Regions from separate parts of the Homo sapiens genome. Here region 2 is linked to region 1. Evidence: fine-mapped QTL for protein levels in blood plasma. A gene starts in region 1. The other region holds a variant in brackets. All regions are shown on one strand. Distances are from middle to middle.

Region 1 (8,512 bases):
TGGGTCTGCAGAGAGGAGAGCAGACCTCTGCCTAATAGCTTTGATTTTCCCTGACACACAAGGCAAGGGGCCCACTTCCCAAATTCTTCCCCGAGATACTGGACTTCAGGCTGAATATCCAGCAAAAACCACATAAAGGTTATCGTCCTTGAGTCCTTGGAGGTTATATTCCCTGCTCTTCTGGAATCCTAGCAGCTCTAGCTTCTACCTCTCCTCCCTCCCTCCCTCCCTCCTGCTGTTCTTCACTTTTTATCATGACATCCAGTCCCCCAACCCTCTAGTCATGGGCATGACCCAACCAGGTTCCTAGAACAGTATCATGTACATGCGTGCCACCTTCCTAACTCACAAAGCATGTCCCCCCTTGAACCTCACGACAGCCTGGGATGGAGGACAAGCAGACACCAAGTCCTGGGGGCATGAGCAGGGACTTGTTTGTGGAGACGCCAGGCCCCAGAACTTCAAGCACCCTCCTCTGTTCTACAGATTCTAGCAGGCAGGCTCAGTCACTACAAGACACCTCTCTCCAGCATCTCTCACTCATTCCTGCATCCTCCCGCCTTCCCTACCTCTACCCTCGCAGTCCCAGCCTAGTGATCCCTTTCTCAGCTTCTGCTGGTGCTGCTGGAGAAAGCATAGGAGTTCAGGCTCCACAACCCCATGCTGTGTGACCCTTGGGCAGGTTACTTTCGCTTGCCAAGCCTTGTATACACTAGGGATTATAACAGAACCTAGGCCTTTGTGTTGTTGTGAGGACAGAGTGAGTTCATGCGTGCAAAGGGCTGAGGACAGCACCTAACACCAAAGTCAACAAATGTGGGCATGAAAACAGGGCTGGTGTGTCCTGCTGTAAGTTCGTGCTATCCCATCACCATTTCTTCATGGTGCTTTCATCCACCTCAGATGGATCCAGTCACAGCTCCTCTCCAAGGGCTCTTCTAAACCATTTTCACATGCTCACAACCCAAAAACGAACAATTCAAGAAGGAAAAACTTAGTCTCTGAAGCATAAACAACTTCAACCTGTCAAGCATCTGAGCAGGGGACACACAGGACACTGGGGAACAATTTTTGACCTCCACGCAGAGAGAACAAATGAGCCTCTACAGGAACCTGAGCCGCACCTTCCGCGTTTCCATGTTGCTGGGACCTCAGGAAGTCTGAGCACAGCAGTGTTCTCCCAGAAATGAGGACCAGCACCGCGCTCGCCTATTTTCATCCCAAACATCTACAAAACAATTCCTAGACAAACTCCCCTGGGGAAAGGAAGGGCAACGAAGCAAGCAAGAGGAAAAACAACCCAGAAACTTCTCATAGTAACCTGAAGTTTTTGTTTCTGTTTCTGAGGCAGTGTCTCCCTCTGTTGCCCAGGCTGGAGTGCAGTGGCGCAATCTGTACTCACTGCGACCTCCACCACCACAGTTCAAGCGATTCTCCTGCCTCAGCCGCCCGAGGAGCTGGGATCATAGACAGGCGCCACCATGCCAGGATAATTTTTGTGTTTATTTCTTTTTAGCAAAGACGGGTTTTGTCATGTTGGCCAGGCTGGTCTCTAACTCTTGGCCTCAAGTGATTCACCCGCCTTGGCCTCCCAAAGTCCTGGGGTTAGTTATGAGCCACCGTGCCTGGCGTCTCCAAGTAATCTAAACTTTAAAATTTTTGTTCTATGGCATATTCTTTCCTTGTTTATTTTCCTTTTCAAAGGTTTCCTCTGGGTTTATAGGAAAGCTCACTTTGGCAATGTCAGTTTCTTCCAGGTAAGTAGTGAGAACACAGAGAAAAGACTTTGTTTCTTTGCTGCTGGGATATTTTGGTCTGTGTTTGGGCAGAGAGGATGTGTGTGCAACAGCCGTGGTGGGCCTCAGAGATGCTGATGGGGGGTCCAAGTGAAAGTGCTGCCTGCCTCCACTTCAGAAGGAAAGCTATGGAGTCCTTCCCAGTGTTTGCCTCAAGGCCAAGCAGTCGCAGGGTGACCCTTTGATATCTGCTCCCCTGACAAGGATTCTGAGCCTCATCTAAGGTAGAGGTGGGGAGGGAGGCAGGATGTGATGGACACAGATTTCCAGACTCTTTCAATGGATCCACAGGTTTTGGAGAATCCACACTTCCAAAGGGGCTGAGCTCCGCCCCCATCTTGCTGATATCATTCGTGCTATTATAAATCAAACAGCAACAGGGCATGATTAAACACACGGAGCCTGACCACACGTGGGCACAATCAAGGTCTCTTATTCCCTCCGTGACATTCATGTCCAACCACTACCATTTTTGTGCCTCCTGTATGTGTCCTGATTCTCTCATTCAGAGCATCTACAAAAAGTCAAACCGTCGAATCAGCATCATTTTTAGTCCTTAAGAAACACGCTTTAAAGTTTCCTATTTTCTTTTCCTTTTTTTTTTTTTTTTTTTAAGATGGAGTTTCGCTCTTGTTGCCCAGGCTGGAGTGCAATGGCGCGATCTCGGCTCACTGCAACCTCCGCCTCCTAGGTTCAAGCGATTCTCCTGCCTCAGCCTCCCGAATAGCTGGGATTACAGGCGCATGCCACCAGCTCTGGCTAATTTTTGTATTTTTAGTAGAGATGGGGTTTCATCACATTGGTCAGGCAGGTCTCAAACTCCTGACCTCAGGTGATCCGCCCTCCTCGGCCTCCCAAAGTGCTGGGATTACAGGCATAAGCCACCACGCCCGGCCTTAAAGTTTCTTATTTTCAACGAAAATCAAGTCCCCTCTTTTCACTTTTTATAAAAGGGACCAGAAGTTTTCCTCCCATTTTTGTATGATGAAAGCCACCGCAGGCAAAGTCAGGAGAGCCACGTCAAGAAAAAGGAGTGGGTGTTACGAGAAGCCCGGCATCTAATTAGATTTTGCTCTTGCAATTACTTAACACAAACCATGCCTTATACAACCCATGAGACTAAAACAAACTTTTTTCTCTCAGCATTTCTCCCCTTTTAAGTCATATTTCCACGAATCCTCTCAGATCAGCCTTTCTCTTCAAGCCTAGAAAAATTCCAGTAGCACGTCACCGCGCCCGCCCGCCCGCTTCTGCCAAACTACTGGGCTTCCTCTTCCCTAAGACAGAGAAACCCATGCCAGAAACTCTTCTGGGTGCCCGCGGCTAAAATAACTTGGCACGAGTGTGTTTCGCTTCCAACTTGGCGAGGGCGCTGCGGGTCTCGAGCGCTCTGGCCAAGGCCGGCCCCTCAGTCGCGCGCTTACCCTGCCGGGGCGAGGCGCGCGCGGTGGCCAGGGCGGCGCCGTCCGGCGCGCGGCTGAGGCTGTAGCTGCTGTAGCCGCTGTGCAGCGCGAACTTGCAGACGTTGCGGCCGCGCGCCGTGCAGTTGAAGAGGTAGCAGCCGAGCACGGCTGCCGGGGGCGCGGGGCGCCGGGGCAGCTCCACCACGGCCACGGAGCAGCGCGGCTCGGAGCAGCAGGCCGCCACGCATTGCCGCCAGCCCCGCACGGCCGCCGGCGCCCGCAGGAAGCTGGCACCCGCCGCCAGGGAGTCCTTGGTGCGGATGATGGCGTCAGGCATTGCGCTGTAGCCGCCGCTGCCCGGGCCCGGGCAGTCCTCCTGGGGGCCGCCGCCCGCGCGCAGCTCCAGCTCCAGCTCCTCCTGAGGCCGCTCCTGCTGCAGTTGCCGGCGGAACTCCTCCAGCAGCTGCTCCACGCCCGACAGCTGCGCGTGCAGTTCGGACAGCGGCGCCGCGGGCGGCAAGGCCGCACGGCCGCTTGGCAGCCACAGGCAGAGCAGTAGCAGCCCGCGCAGCGCCCCGTGACGCGGCGGTAGCCGGCGCTGCGAGCCCGCGCTCTCCTGGGCGACGGAGGCCATGGCGACGAGAGCCAAGGGCAGCGAGCCGAGGCGGGGCTGAGCGCGGGAGGAAGGCGGGGACGCGGGCGAGCGCGGGCCCTGGGCCCCTCCTGCGCGGCCGCGGCTGGCTCTAGGCCCCGGCCTCACAGCGCGGCGCCCCCGAACCCGGCTGCTCCCCCGAGGTCGCGGGCGCCGGCGGGAACCGCAGTAGCGGGAGACATAGCCGGCCCAGCCGGGCACCGCTCCTTGCCCTCGCCGGAGACTGCCCAGCGCCCTGCGCCTCTCCGCCCCGGCCTGCGGCGCGCTGGGTGGCGACGAGTCGGCCTCGGCGTTGATCAGCACCAGGTGTGTGCGAACAGTGGCCGCGGCGGGGTGGAGCCTTGGTGAGCCCCGCCCCCCCGCGCGGCCCCGCCCCCGCGCGTCTCGCGCCGGCTCCTCCAGGGCTGGGAGAGCAGGCCCCGGGGAGGGCAGCCTCAGAACAACTTTGCTCCCGCGCCGCTGCCCAGCTAGGGCAGGGTTCATGTCTGGGCCCAGCAGGCTTTAGCAACCAACCACACCTGCCCAGGGCGCCTGCCCACAGGGGCTTGGCATTCGGGGGAATGGGGGCAGTGGGAAGGGAGGGCCTGTCTTCAAATCCTCGTGACCCCCGGGACTACTCCAGAGAGGGGGCACGCGCACCTAGGACCACCGTAGCGCGTCATCAGTCCTTCACCTCCAGCGTCCCTGACTTTCCGCATCATGTTCCCAAGATGTGCTTGGGTAGTACAAAGTGGGGCGGGGTTGGGGTGGCGGAGTCAGGGCCGGGAGGGGTGGGGATGGGAAGTACTGAAAGATGTTCAGTCTGTTTAAAAACACAAAAATCAAGCCTGGTGAGGTGGTACTCGCCTGTAAGTCCTGAGGCTGAGTTGGGAGGATGGCTTGGACCCAGGAGTTCGAGACTGCAATGAGCTGTGATCACACCACTGTACTCCAGCCTGGGGGACAGAACAAGACCCTGTCTTTAAAAATAAAAACAAAACCCATAAATAGCAGTCGTCACATGCACTCAGATTTCCACAAATATAACAAAAAATCTGAACACAGCCAACATGGGGACCTGGGAGTAATACAGCCTGTGACAGAGAGGCCTCTAGCGGTTATATCACGTAAAATCTCGGGAGTTGTGCTTTAAATGACATAAGGAATAAGAAAATGTCCAACCCAGTGGGGGCTTCACCTTGGCGTTCTAGACTTCTGTGAGCAGCATCTGCATCTTGTTTGTTTCTGAATCAGTTTCTGTTGATTCATTTTTCTCCTGATTGTGGATCGCATTTTCTTGCTTTTTAGCCTGTCCGGAAATTTTTGCCTGGATGCGCACATTGTAAATAGAACACTGTTAAGTGTCTGTATTTTTTAGGATTGAAAGAATAAATAATTGGTGGGAAAATATCAGTCTCTGCTATGTGTTTATTATCTCCAGAGTTGACATTTAGGAACCCATTGCTTGCAGATCCAGATCAGAGTAGGAGGTAAAATTAAAAGGTAGCAATAGAAAAGAAAGAAAAAAGCTCAATGTTACTTGCCATTCCATCAAAGGGAGAAATTATAAAGTTTTTGCAGGGGTATATTTGAGTGATTTTTGAGGCTAAAAGAAATGGCCTCTTAGCTCTAAAGGCTGTGTCTGGACTGTACCACTTCGGCCTGGAGATTCTTCCTCATATGGCATACTCATCCCACACAACTGCAGTCATTGTAAGATGACCTTGAAGCAACATAATGCTTTTTATTTTTTATTTTTATTTTTTGCCATAGACCTTGGAGAGCTTGAGCAGGATTGTTATGAGGAGAAACTTTCACTAGTGATGAAAATGCTGACTGAGGGTATCATCAAACCCTCCAAGGACTAGTTGTTATATAAGTTATTAATATTAAAAATAACATGATAATATATAATATTAACTAAGAATTGTACATGATTTCAAAGTTTGCCAAACACTTTCACATACATGATTTTATGTGCCTTCACAGAGACTTTGACCACCTCACTCCTGCCTTTGGGACCGTGAAAGAGAAGTCAGTATAGAGTGAGCCCTAGCTCACATGTTCCGTGGTAGGGAAGTGGACAGGGGAGAGGACAGCATTTCTCAGGGGCATTCATTTCTAAATCCCTCCAGCACCATCAAAGATTTTCCTGCATCTGCAACTTTACAATAGGTCTTTTTGGGAGAAGTGGAAATTATTTAATGTTGTGTTTACCGTGAGCAGTGGTTATTTCTGGGCTGTGAGTTGCAAGTACTGAAGGGGAAATACTGACTTTTATAATTTATAAGACTTTGTTGAATTTTTTTTTTGCAATGAGCTTGTTGTAAATGATTTTCTATTTTTTAAAAATAAGTGTTGACATCTGCTTCAGCCAGGAGGGAGCAACAAGGACTGGACTTACTCTGTGACCTGAAATGAAAAATCTGTGAAAAAAATGTATGGAACAATGGTTTTCAGACATTGGGCAACAGGCAATGCAGGGCCCAAGAGAAGGGAGACAAAGGAAGTGAACATGCTGCTTGCTCCAGCTTACTGCCTGGAGAGGGTTTCCAAGCCGCAATGCAGACAGGCGAACCAAAAGAGACTCTGAGTTGGAAAATAGAGCTGAGAATTCAGGGAGGCCAGGGTGGCTAGAGTACCAGAGAGGAGAGAGTGCAACGGAAGGAGGGAGCTCTGGAGATCTGTGCAGGGTTCCTCTGAGTCTTCAGCAGAAGTTCGACCAGGTACATGCATGTGAGGAAACTTCCCAAGACAGAGAGGCAACCACTAGAAAAAAGCTGGCAGAAAAACTTCTGAGCTTGCATTGGCCAGGCAATAGTTCGTTCCCAACAGCCAGAGTGGAGAAACCTTGTGACAAGAGGCATGAGTTTGAGTAGGAAGGGAAGGGATTACAGAGAAGCACATGAAAACTTTTGCAGGTGATAGGTGTGTTCATTACCTTGATTGTGGTGATGGTTTCACTGGTGAATACATTGATCAAAGTTCATCAAATTGTGTATTTTAAGTGGGTATAGTCAATTATATGTTAATAAGGCTATTTTTTAAAAACGAAGTTTCATTGCACTGTGCATTGTGATTTATCTTCTTTTTCTAGTTCTCTTTTCAGTTTTTTTCAGAAATAAACTATCTTTGTTTTAAAAGCCTAAACATCAAAACCTTATCAATGGATAGAAGAATTTTTATGTGAGGATGAAAATGTCAGGAAGATGTGTTTCTGTTTTATAAGATAGATCATTAAGAGTAAGAGTGGATCAAATTGAGATTGGACTTCGTAGGTCAGTTTGTTGAATGTTGGAATGAGATAACCTGTGTCTTAGCTGGGCTGCTGTAACAGAATACCACAGACTGGGAGGCTTCTAAACAACAGAAATTTATTCCTCACAATTCTAGTGGCTGAGAAGTTCAAGATCATGGTGCTGGCAGACGCTGATATCTGGTGAGGGCCCACTTCCTGGTTCATAGACAGCAGTCTTCTCACTGAGTCCTCACCTTGTGGGAGGAGTTAGGGAGCTCTCTGGGATTTTTTTCTTTTCTTTTCTTTTCTTTTTTGAGACAAAGTCTCGCTCTGTTGCCCAGGCTGGAGTTCAGAGGCACAATCTCTGCTTACTGCAACCTCTGCCTCCTGGGTTCAAACGATTCTTCTGCCTCAGCCTCCTGAGTGGCTGGGATTACAGGCGCACACCACCACGCCTGGCTAATTTTTGTATTTTTAGTAGAGACTGGGTTTCACCATGTTGGTCAGGCTGGTCTCGAACTCATGACCTTATGATCTGGCTGCCTCAGCCTCCCAAAGTGCTATGATTTCAGGCATGAGGCACCGTGCCTGGCCTGGGATCTTTTTTATAAGAACACTAATCCCATTCATGAGGGCTCCACCTTCATGCCCTAATCATCTTCCAAATTCTCCACTGCAAACATCATCACATTAGGTTTCAACATAGGAATTTTGGGGGGTTACAAACATCCAATCTACAGCAACACCCTAGTGACATCGTTTTTTGTTGCCCTCCCCTCCCCTCTACTGCCCATCTAAGTACTTTTACAGGCATCGAATAAGTTAAGTCAGTGCATGTGAAGTGCTTAGAAGGGCATCTGACACATTATAGAAGTTCAATAAATGCTAGTTGTTGTTGTTATTACAACAGAAATGAAGGACCTTTCCTAAGATTAGAAGTCATGAAACCACTTGAAGCCTGAATCTCCTCTACAACATCCCAGCTGAGTGGCTGTTGCACTAAGATTCTTCCTTCTCCATACCCCTTTCATGGAATCTGCTCTGCTCACGTCCCTGGAAGGGGCAGCCCCAACCCCCAGGTGGCCACACCCCCTGTTCACTAGGGATGGAATCAATAATGAATGCCTGGCCCAAGCACAGCCAATCAGATACTCTCTCCAAGGAATGTAAAAACAGAATTGAGAAACAAACTGACTCAGCAAATCAACTCAACAAACTGACTCAACAAATTGAGTCAGGGAGGGAAGTGTAGCTGGGAAGCCAGGTGAGCTCCAGGGGACATGGAAGGGGATGATAGCAGAGAGAAGCTGTTCAGCAGAGGGGGACAAATGGAACCGTGAAAAGAGGAAATAGAGAACAGTGCATACATAGCCTTGAGAGAGGGAGGGAGTGAAGACAGGAGTTGCCTGACACTTTCTGGTCTCAAATCTCTCCCCTGAGCACC
Region 2 (8,512 bases), 23 kb before region 1:
CTCCTCAGGGGCTCTTGGTCTGAGGGCTGTTCTCCATGCTTGCCTTGCCAGGAGGTGGCACACAGAAGCAACAGCCCAGGTCTCTCTCCACCCTTGATTCCCCGCCTCAGCTGTCTCCCTCTTCATTCATTCATTCATAGAAACCATTGTTGGAACCTCTTCTTCTGGCTGTCGATTGCTCTGCAGGAGGGCACCTAATACCATCCCATCCCCTGGATGGCAGTTGGCTATGTTTTAACAGAGATACCATTTATTTATTTATTTACTTACTTAAGACAAGGTCTCACTCTGTCGCCCAGGCTGAAGTGCAGTGGCACAATCTTGGCTCACTGCAACCTCCGCCTCCCGGGTTCAAGAGATTCTCTTGCCTCAGCCTCTGGAGTAGCTGGGACTACAGACATGCACCACCACACCCGGTTAATTTTTGTGTTTTTTGGTAGAGATGGGATTTCACCTTGTTGGCCAGGCTGGTCTCGAACTCCTGACCTCAACTGATCCACCTGCCTCGGCCTCCCAAAGTGCTGGGATTACAGGTGTTAGCCACCGTGCCTGGCCCAGAGGTACTATTTTACATATGCTATGTCTTACATTCTTGTCTCCTAAGTAATACTTTTCACTGAGATTAAGTTTTTACTATTGAATCCTATTTGTTGATTATCATAACGTCCCTGGTACTGTAGAGAATAAACAAAATTTAGTTATGGGCTGGCATGAATTTAGTTTCATGAAATAATGACATTGGCCAGGCGTGGTGGCTCACACCTGTAATCCCAGCACTTTGGGAAGCTAAGGCGGGTGGATCACAAGGTCAGGAGATCGAGACCATCCTGGCTAACACGGTGAAACCCCGTCTCTACTAAAAATACAAAAAATTAGCCGGGCTTGGTGGCATGCACCTGTAGTCCCAGGTACTCGGGAGGCTGAGACAGGAGAATCACTTGAGTCTGGGAGGCAGAGGTTGCAGTGAGCCAAGATTGTGACACTGCACTCCAGCCTGGGCGACAGAGGGAGACTCTGTCTCAAAAAAAAAAAAAAAGAAAGAAATAACGACATTTCTCCCTTCTGGAGTTCTTAGGAGCTTTTAATTTGCAGTGCAATTCATAGGAGCTACAAATATTTTCCTGAAATGCATTTTCCCTCTCCCTTGATTAAGCCAACTTTATTAGACTTAGCTAGAGGAGAACCGGGTGACTATCTGGTACTGGCAACATGGACTAAGGCACAAGGCTAGAAGCAGGTCACAGGAGCTCCACGGTTTTACAGGGACAGAGTGGACTAGACAATTCTCTCAGGAACATGGGGAAGTGGCAGATTATATGATATTCCTTCAAAACCAAATGGCTGAGCACAGTTCACAAACCCAAGTGAAATCTTGGACATACACTTGGTTTTTTTTTGTTTTTTTTTTTTTTGTAGATACAGGGTGTCACTATGTTGCCCAGGCTGGTCTTGAACTACTGGACTCAAGCAATCCTCCTGCCTCAGCCTCCCAAAGTGCTGAGATTACAGGTGTAAGCCACTGCGCCCGGCCTTGGACACATCTTTTATTGAAACGTGGTTAAATCAAGAGGTTGGAAAAGGAGTCTATCTTGGTGTGAGGCAATTTGAAGATATATTGATCCAGGAGGAAGAGAAGTTAAAGAAAATAAATGGTGATAGAAGCTCCTGCGGAAGAAGAGGAAGCAAAGAGCCTGCAGTTATGACTGAGAACATGGGCCTGAAGGAGAGTCAGCTCCGGCCACTGGGAAGAAGCAGGGAGCGGAGGTGGGGGACACGCTGGATATCAAGCAGGATACAGTTCCTCGTCAGGTTTCTTAAATTCATGGCATGAAAATCCCAGATATCTCAAGGTTTTATTTATTCTTTGGTGATTTTGGAGATGGATCCATATTTGTAAATTTTCTATCTATTTTTGGATTAGCAGCCTCCAAACTTTTTTGATCATGCATCCTGATCAATAATATATTGTTGAACAGGCATCTCCAGTTTATTTATTTATCTATTTATTTGAGACGGAGTCTCGCTGTGTCGCCCAGGCTGGAGTGCGGTGGCACAATCTCAGCTCACTGCAGCCTCCAGCTCCCAGGCTCAACTGACTCTCATGTCTCAGCCTCCTGAGTAGCTGGGATTACAGGCGTGTCCCACCACATCCGGCTAGTCCGGTTTATTTATAAATAATACGTGCATACTACTGTACTAACATGGGGTGTATCTTATAAAATATACTCAAATTTTAAGGAAAAAAATTAAAAATCAGCAAAAATATAAACTCTGCTGTCTTCTTTCTCACCCTAAAAATGTCTTGAACAACTCAGGGGCATCCTGTTTGGAGACTGCTGAGTTAGATCATGTTGGAAGAGCTTGCTGGCTTGCTGTTTGATCATTTTTCTAAGCATGAAAAATGTTCAAAATGTCAACTTATTAAAAATTGAACCAAGTTATGATCATATAAGCAGGGTACCTGCTCATCTGTCTACCTCAGCTAGTGTCACCCTTGGTTACCATAACATCTGGGTCATTCATTGCAAGACCAATACATACAATGCAGGGGAGGGAAACACTTGTCTCTTCTACCTCTATTTTCCAATGTCTCTCTGTGGTGTTTTATTAACTTTAATTCATAGCATGTTATTCCAATATAACCACTAAGTGATTCTAGACAGCAGTTAGTACTTCACCAATTCCTTTTTATTTTCCATATAAAGTTACCCACACAAGACCTATACTCAAGCGGCCACTGAGTAATCAAAAATGATTCACACACCACTCTCTGCTACTTCAAATACAGTTTATTATCATCTTGGAGAAGGGCCAGAAATTTACAGCTGGCAATTTACCTCTGGAGCCCGGAAAGCTGCCTGAGGAAATAAACCAGGACAAACAAGTGGCCGGTGAGGTGCTGGCCATCTGCTCATATCAGTGCAGGCCCTTCCTCCCTCCCAGGCACTTCAGCTGTACAAGAGCAATCCTTTTCTGATTTCTGTGGGGATGACAGGGTATCTGTGTCTTTTTCCCAAGAGTCCCTTCCTCCCAGAGTCAGCACTTGACTCAGACCCTGTCCAGGTGAGTCCCGGTACCCAGGGGGAAAGCCCTCTAGAGGGCGCCCAGATCTACAGAAGTGAGCCATCCCTGCTGGAGACAATGTCATGTCTCCACTGGTCCTGGTGGCCAAGGGACCAATGATGTTTTGAGTAGCTGCCCAGCAAAGGGACTCAACAATGTTTTGAGTAGCTGGCTGGCTCTCCTGTCCAGCTGCAATGAATTAGCAGGGCTGATGGAATCCGGGCTGAGCTGGACAGACTGTTTACTCGCTATCACTGGTGACCTCACAGTGCTGGCACGGGCTGGAGTTTGGTGCCTGTCCTGTCTGTGAATGGTTACCCTGCTTCCTTACAGTAAGCTTAACCCCTGGCTGGACAGGTTGTCATCAGCCAAACAAATTTTTAATGCCGCCTATGAAAATTATCAAAGTTGACAAGTCCTTAGGATCCTAAAATCTCTAACTCCTTAGAAAATTTCATTTCCAGTATGCATACTAACCTCAGTTTTTGATAGAAGGCTAGATCCAATATAGTACAAGTAAATCACAGTCCTGTTCCAACTCTTTTATC[C/T]TCATTCTGCACTCTGCTGGCTTAATTACCATCTGGATCCTGAGTATTGAATACTGAGAATTCAAAAATGTCACAGACTTACTGCAAGTTTACCAGAGTCAGGGACCACCAGTGCACCACTCTATCCCCAGTGCCTGGCAAGGACCCTGCACACTGCATACACTAAGAAAATACACGATGACCGAGTAACAGGATATTTAAATGTACAAGACCTTAGCACCTCTCCAGAAGTGAATTGTGTGTGTGGTGAGGGGTTCCCTCTACAATACTACAATATCTTTAGTGTCGCTAAGTTCCATGCAATGGATATTTTAAAAAATTTGATGACCTAATCTTTCTTAGACATGTAGACGTTGGGCTGGGCGCGGTGGTTCACGCCTGTAGTCTAAGTGCTTCGGGAGGCTGAGGCGGGTGGATCACCTGAGGTCAGGAATTCGAGACCAGGTTGGCCAACATGGTGAAACCCTGTCTCTACTAAAAATACAAAATTAGCAGGGCGTGGTGGTGCACACCTGTAGTCCCAGCTACTTGGGAGGCTGAGGCAGGAGAATCACTTGAACCCAGGAGGCAGAGGCTGCAGTGAGCCGAGACTGCACCACTGCACTCCCACTCCAGCCTAGGCAACAAGAGCAAAACTCCCTCTCAAAAAAAAAATGTAGATGTTTAGAAAAGTAAGAAACATAGATGAATGAAATAAGTTTTACATTGTTACATTGTACAACAGAATGTGAGAACCATCATATGTATTTAAAGTTATATTATTAATATAACTGCATCTGCGTAAAGTGTCTATGAAAATGTGTAGGTAGCACTTTCAAATTGATGGGTCCTTTGCGTATTTCAATTAATTTTAACCGTACTCCTTAGCTGCACTCTTTTTCTCTTTCTAAAATTTTTGAAGTGACTTATTATATCAGCAATTGATTACACCCAAGAGCCAAGTCTTTCTTCAATCCTGTGGTATGCCTTTTCCTTGTTTTTTTAATATGTATTTTTAATTGACAAAAGAGGAGAGTATATATTTATGAGGCACAATGTGATGTTTTGATATATGTTTGCATTGTGGAATGATTACATCAAGCTAACTGACATATCTATCATCTCCCCTACTTGTAATCTTTTTGTGATGACAACATTTAAAACCTACTGTTTTAGCAATTTTGAAACAGACAATACATTATCATTAACTATAGTCACCATGCTGTGCAACAGATCACCAGAACCTGTTCCTCCGGTCTCAGTGACACTTTGTACCCTTTGACCAGCGTCTCTCCTTTCCCAGTCCGTCCCCCGCACAGCCTCCAGTAACCGCCATTCCACTCTCTGCTTCCACGAGTTCAACTGGTTTCACTAAACTCCTTAGCTTCCCTCTTGGAACAGATGCAGCAAATGGACCATCCATCTGTAAACAAAGTCCTCTCCCAGAATAGCCAAGCAATTGTCTTTGATGAAGTCGAGTCAAGAGAAGCGGGAGCATCTCTTCTCATCCCCTGGAGTGCTTCCTCCACCCCAACCCAGTAGCATCGGCTAAGCCCAAAACAGAAGAGAGCCTGCTTTTGTTATTGTGTTTTTAGCAAAGACTCTCTCATTCAGCAATAACCAAAAATAAAATGGAAGAGCCCATGGAGCGCAGAGCCAGAGGACAAAGCGCCAACCCGACATTGCCTTCCACAAGCAGTGGGAAGCGAGGGAAGGACTTTCTTCTCACCTCCTGTGGAGTAGGCTGCGCGAAGCACTGTCACTGACACGTTGTCAGAGCTTCTCTGCCCGGCAGTGTCCGTCACGGTCAGCTGGAAGGTGTAGGTTCCCTCCTGTAGGTGGGACAGCTTCAGGGTTCCTGATTGAGGCACCTGCCACACAGATGGGACACATCACGTCGAGCAGCAGACTTGAGCTCCGAGCCCAACACCATCCTCAACCGAAAGTCCATGTCCTCAGAGCAGCCCCAGGACCTGCCTCTGCACTCCGGCCCGAGGCTGCTGAACTACATCACACACTGTTGGCAGCTGGCCCACCTTGAACTCATAAGTTCTAGTTTATTTAGGTGGCCAAGGCCTTGACTGACAATCCCTTCACTTGTCTGCAGCAGTTGCTGCTCCAAACCTGCACCTCATCCCCAGCCTCACGCTCAGGATCCAGGCCCTGCCGTCTCAGCAGGGGGACTCATCAGCTTCAGGGAGAAAATCAGGACCATGACTAGGGCTCCACCACCCACCTCCTCCTGGTACCCTACCTGTACCCACTGTCACTTCCTTCTGACAGCCAGCAGGGAGAAGCTGTCCCTCCTGTGTTCCAGGCCAACCCCTCCTTCTAGTCCTTGCCCCCTTTCTTTCTAGGACCTTTAGAACACTGACACATCGACTCATTTCTCTTTCAAATGGCTCTGCTATTACTATGCTCAAGTTTCTCTCATCCTAAGAAACAAACAAAACAACAAATAAAAAAAATTCCCTGAGCTCTAAGGGCTCACCAGCCACAGCCCCGCTTCCTTCCCATCTCCACTTGGCTCCCTGAAAGGCCTGGCTGTGCCGTGCTTGCTGTTTCTGTTTGCTCACTTCCCATTTAGTCTTCGCCCACCCAATGTAGCTGCTTTCCCCACCATCCCCCTGAAACAGTGCTGGCAAAACTCACTAACTGACCTAGCAAAAGTCTCCTAGGTGTCAAGACCAACAATACTATTTTTAAAAAATCCATGCTTGGTTGGGCACGGTGGCTCATGCCTGTAATCCCAGCACTTTGGGAGGCCAAGGCGGGCGGATGATGAGGTCAGGAGATGGAGACCATCTTGGCCAACATGGTGAGACCCCATCTCTACTAAAAATACAAAAATCAGCTGGGCATGGTGGCGTGCGCCTGTAGTCCCAGGTACTCGGGAGGCTGAGGCAGGAGAATCGCTTAAAACTGGGAGACAGAGGTTGTAGTGTGCCAAGATCACCCACTGCATTCCAATCTGCTGACAGAGCAAGACTCCATCTCAAAAAAAAAAAAAAAAATCCATGTTTAACTGGCCCTCTTACTGTATCTGGCCATGCTGGCCACTTTGGCTGTTTGAAAACCCCTGCTTCCTTGGCCTCCTTTTCTATCCAAGTTCCCCCAGTCATTCATTGCAGAAGCCCTCCTGGGCTTCAGTTCTGATCACTCCCTAACCCAGGGCTCCATGCTTGCCCTCTGCTCTCCCAACATTCACAGGCAGCTTGCTGAGCATGCTGGAACAACAGCTTCTGAAGCTCAGCTCTGTGGTAGGATTTTGGGAGTCACTGCTGGACAGTCAGCCTGAAGACTGTTTTTCCAGCTCTCCTAATGATTCTATTACCTATTTAATATTCTATTTAAAAAAATTCCTTTCTGCTTAAATGAACTAGTCTGGATATTGTCCTCTGCAGAATGCTGACCATTTGACATTCTATTACATTGATGCGTTAATAATGGACTTTGGAAATTACAGAGGATGGGATTGTACTATTATAAGAACCATCTGCTTGTTTTTAATTAGGAAATCCTAGAATTTGGACTGACTTAGGCTTAGAGGATTTGTCAACATTACATATACACACCCATAGGATGCTTTACAATCATTTAGATATAATGAGATTACCGTGGTTGTCATATGTTATGCCACTTTAGCTAAGGTATGGATTTCCAGGTCCCAGCCTCAGAGAGTCAGAGTCAGTGGGTTGGTCAGGAGAGCAGGACCCAGGATTCTACACTTACCAAGCCCACCCAGGTGACCCATGATCACACTGAAAGAAACACTGGTGCGTGGTTAAGAGCACAGAACCCGGTGTCCAATAGACATGGGTTTGAATGCCAGCCCTACCCCGTACCAGCTGGCTGATGATGTACAAGTCACTTAACGTCTCCAAACCTCATTGTTTTCATTTGTAAAATGGAAGTAATAATAGCACCTACCTGATGAGGATCAAATAAGGTAACTCATGTAAAAGAGCTGGGCCTGGCCCATAGTAAGCGCTTAAATATATCCACCATCTCCACTGGTTGATTCTTATCTCTAACTGAACATTACACAATGACTCTTTACAGACAAAGAAACGAATCCCCGTGAAGTGATTTTCATTCACTGCGACAGTGACAGAATTGAGACCTCGAGTTGTAAAACAGTCTACACTGGCCTACAAGCTGTCCACCACTTTCCCTGCAAAAGCCTTACTTTGGAGGGCTGGCAATGACGGCCACCTGCCTTTTGTTGTTTATTTCAAAGAGATGTTAAGCAGTGCTCACTGCCACGCTGTTACATTACCTTCAGGCCCAACTACACTGACAGAATGCCAAACGGGTCATTTACGTGAGTGCTAAAATACTAAGGGCAGCAGAGAGAGCTCTAATGACAATAAGAGAACTTCCAAAGAGCCTGGAGTGGGCTGCTGATGCTAGGAATCAGAACCCACTGAAATAAAAGTGGAAGTCAGTCTGAGACAGGACAAGACCAGATAATGTCTTAATCTGATCAGATAAGACTTGGGGCTCAGGTCTTATCTGTCGGATAAGACCAGGTCTTATCTGGTCAGATAAGATCAGAGAATCAGATAAATAAGAGTGAAAACAAGACTAGAACTCTGGTTTGAGACCTCAAGATTGCATTTAATGATCCTTCTATCTCACCTCCAATCCATCAGGAATTTCCATGGGGTCTGCCTTAAAAACACATCCAGAATTTGACCATGTATCACCCTGTCCGCGGGTACCACCTTGCTCTGACCCCAGCCTGTCTCTTGCCTGGGTCACTGCAGTGGCCAGGAGGCCTGAGCTCTGGGAAGACCAGGGTCTGCTGTCTCCTTTTTTCTGGAAACTTTTCCTCCCACCTTCATCCGCAGTGAGAGGAAGGTCAGTTATGGCCTCTTCCCATGGGCACCAGGCTGAACCAAGGCAAGACAAAGACAGGG

Which allele goes with the higher level. Positions count from the first base shown, and alleles are read on the strand shown. Strength reflects both the effect of a copy and how common the allele is.
In carriers of allele C in region 2, the plasma level of the protein whose gene starts at base 4,172 in region 1 tends to be higher than with T alone (weak association).

Evidence for each region. PIP is the posterior inclusion probability: the model's chance that the variant is causal. Protein levels are from antibody-based Olink assays in UK Biobank. Linkage for the fine-mapping came from a reference panel and not from the study's own genotypes, which makes the PIPs less certain.
Region 2: its variant is fine-mapped to the plasma level of the LRP11 protein (UK Biobank, PIP above 0.99).

The regions. Positions count from the first base shown.
Region 1 is chr6:149,860,188-149,868,699 of GRCh38, forward strand. It overlaps LRP11 (LDL receptor related protein 11), which reads right to left and starts at 4,172. Exons shown (of 7, transcript NM_032832.6): 1 at 3,221-4,172. The coding sequence starts at 3,833. RAET1E-LRP11 (RAET1E-LRP11 readthrough) reads right to left here. Exons shown (of 15, transcript NR_182438.1): 8 at 5,029-5,157; 9 at 4,698-4,810. RAET1E-AS1 (RAET1E antisense RNA 1) reads left to right here and starts at 3,311. Exons shown (of 2, transcript NR_045126.1): 1 at 3,311-4,195. RefSeq lists silencers at 3,177-3,326, 3,497-3,606, 3,747-3,806, 3,877-4,326 and an enhancer at 3,983-4,483.
Region 2 is chr6:149,837,664-149,846,175 of GRCh38, forward strand. It overlaps LRP11 (LDL receptor related protein 11), which reads right to left. Exons shown (of 7, transcript NM_032832.6): 3 at 5,320-5,461. It overlaps RAET1E-LRP11 (RAET1E-LRP11 readthrough), which reads right to left. Exons shown (of 15, transcript NR_182438.1): 11 at 5,320-5,461. Among named protein-coding and RNA genes, the nearest start is that of RAET1E-AS1, 22 kb to the right of the region's middle. The variant C/T (reference allele first, on the strand shown) is at 3,612.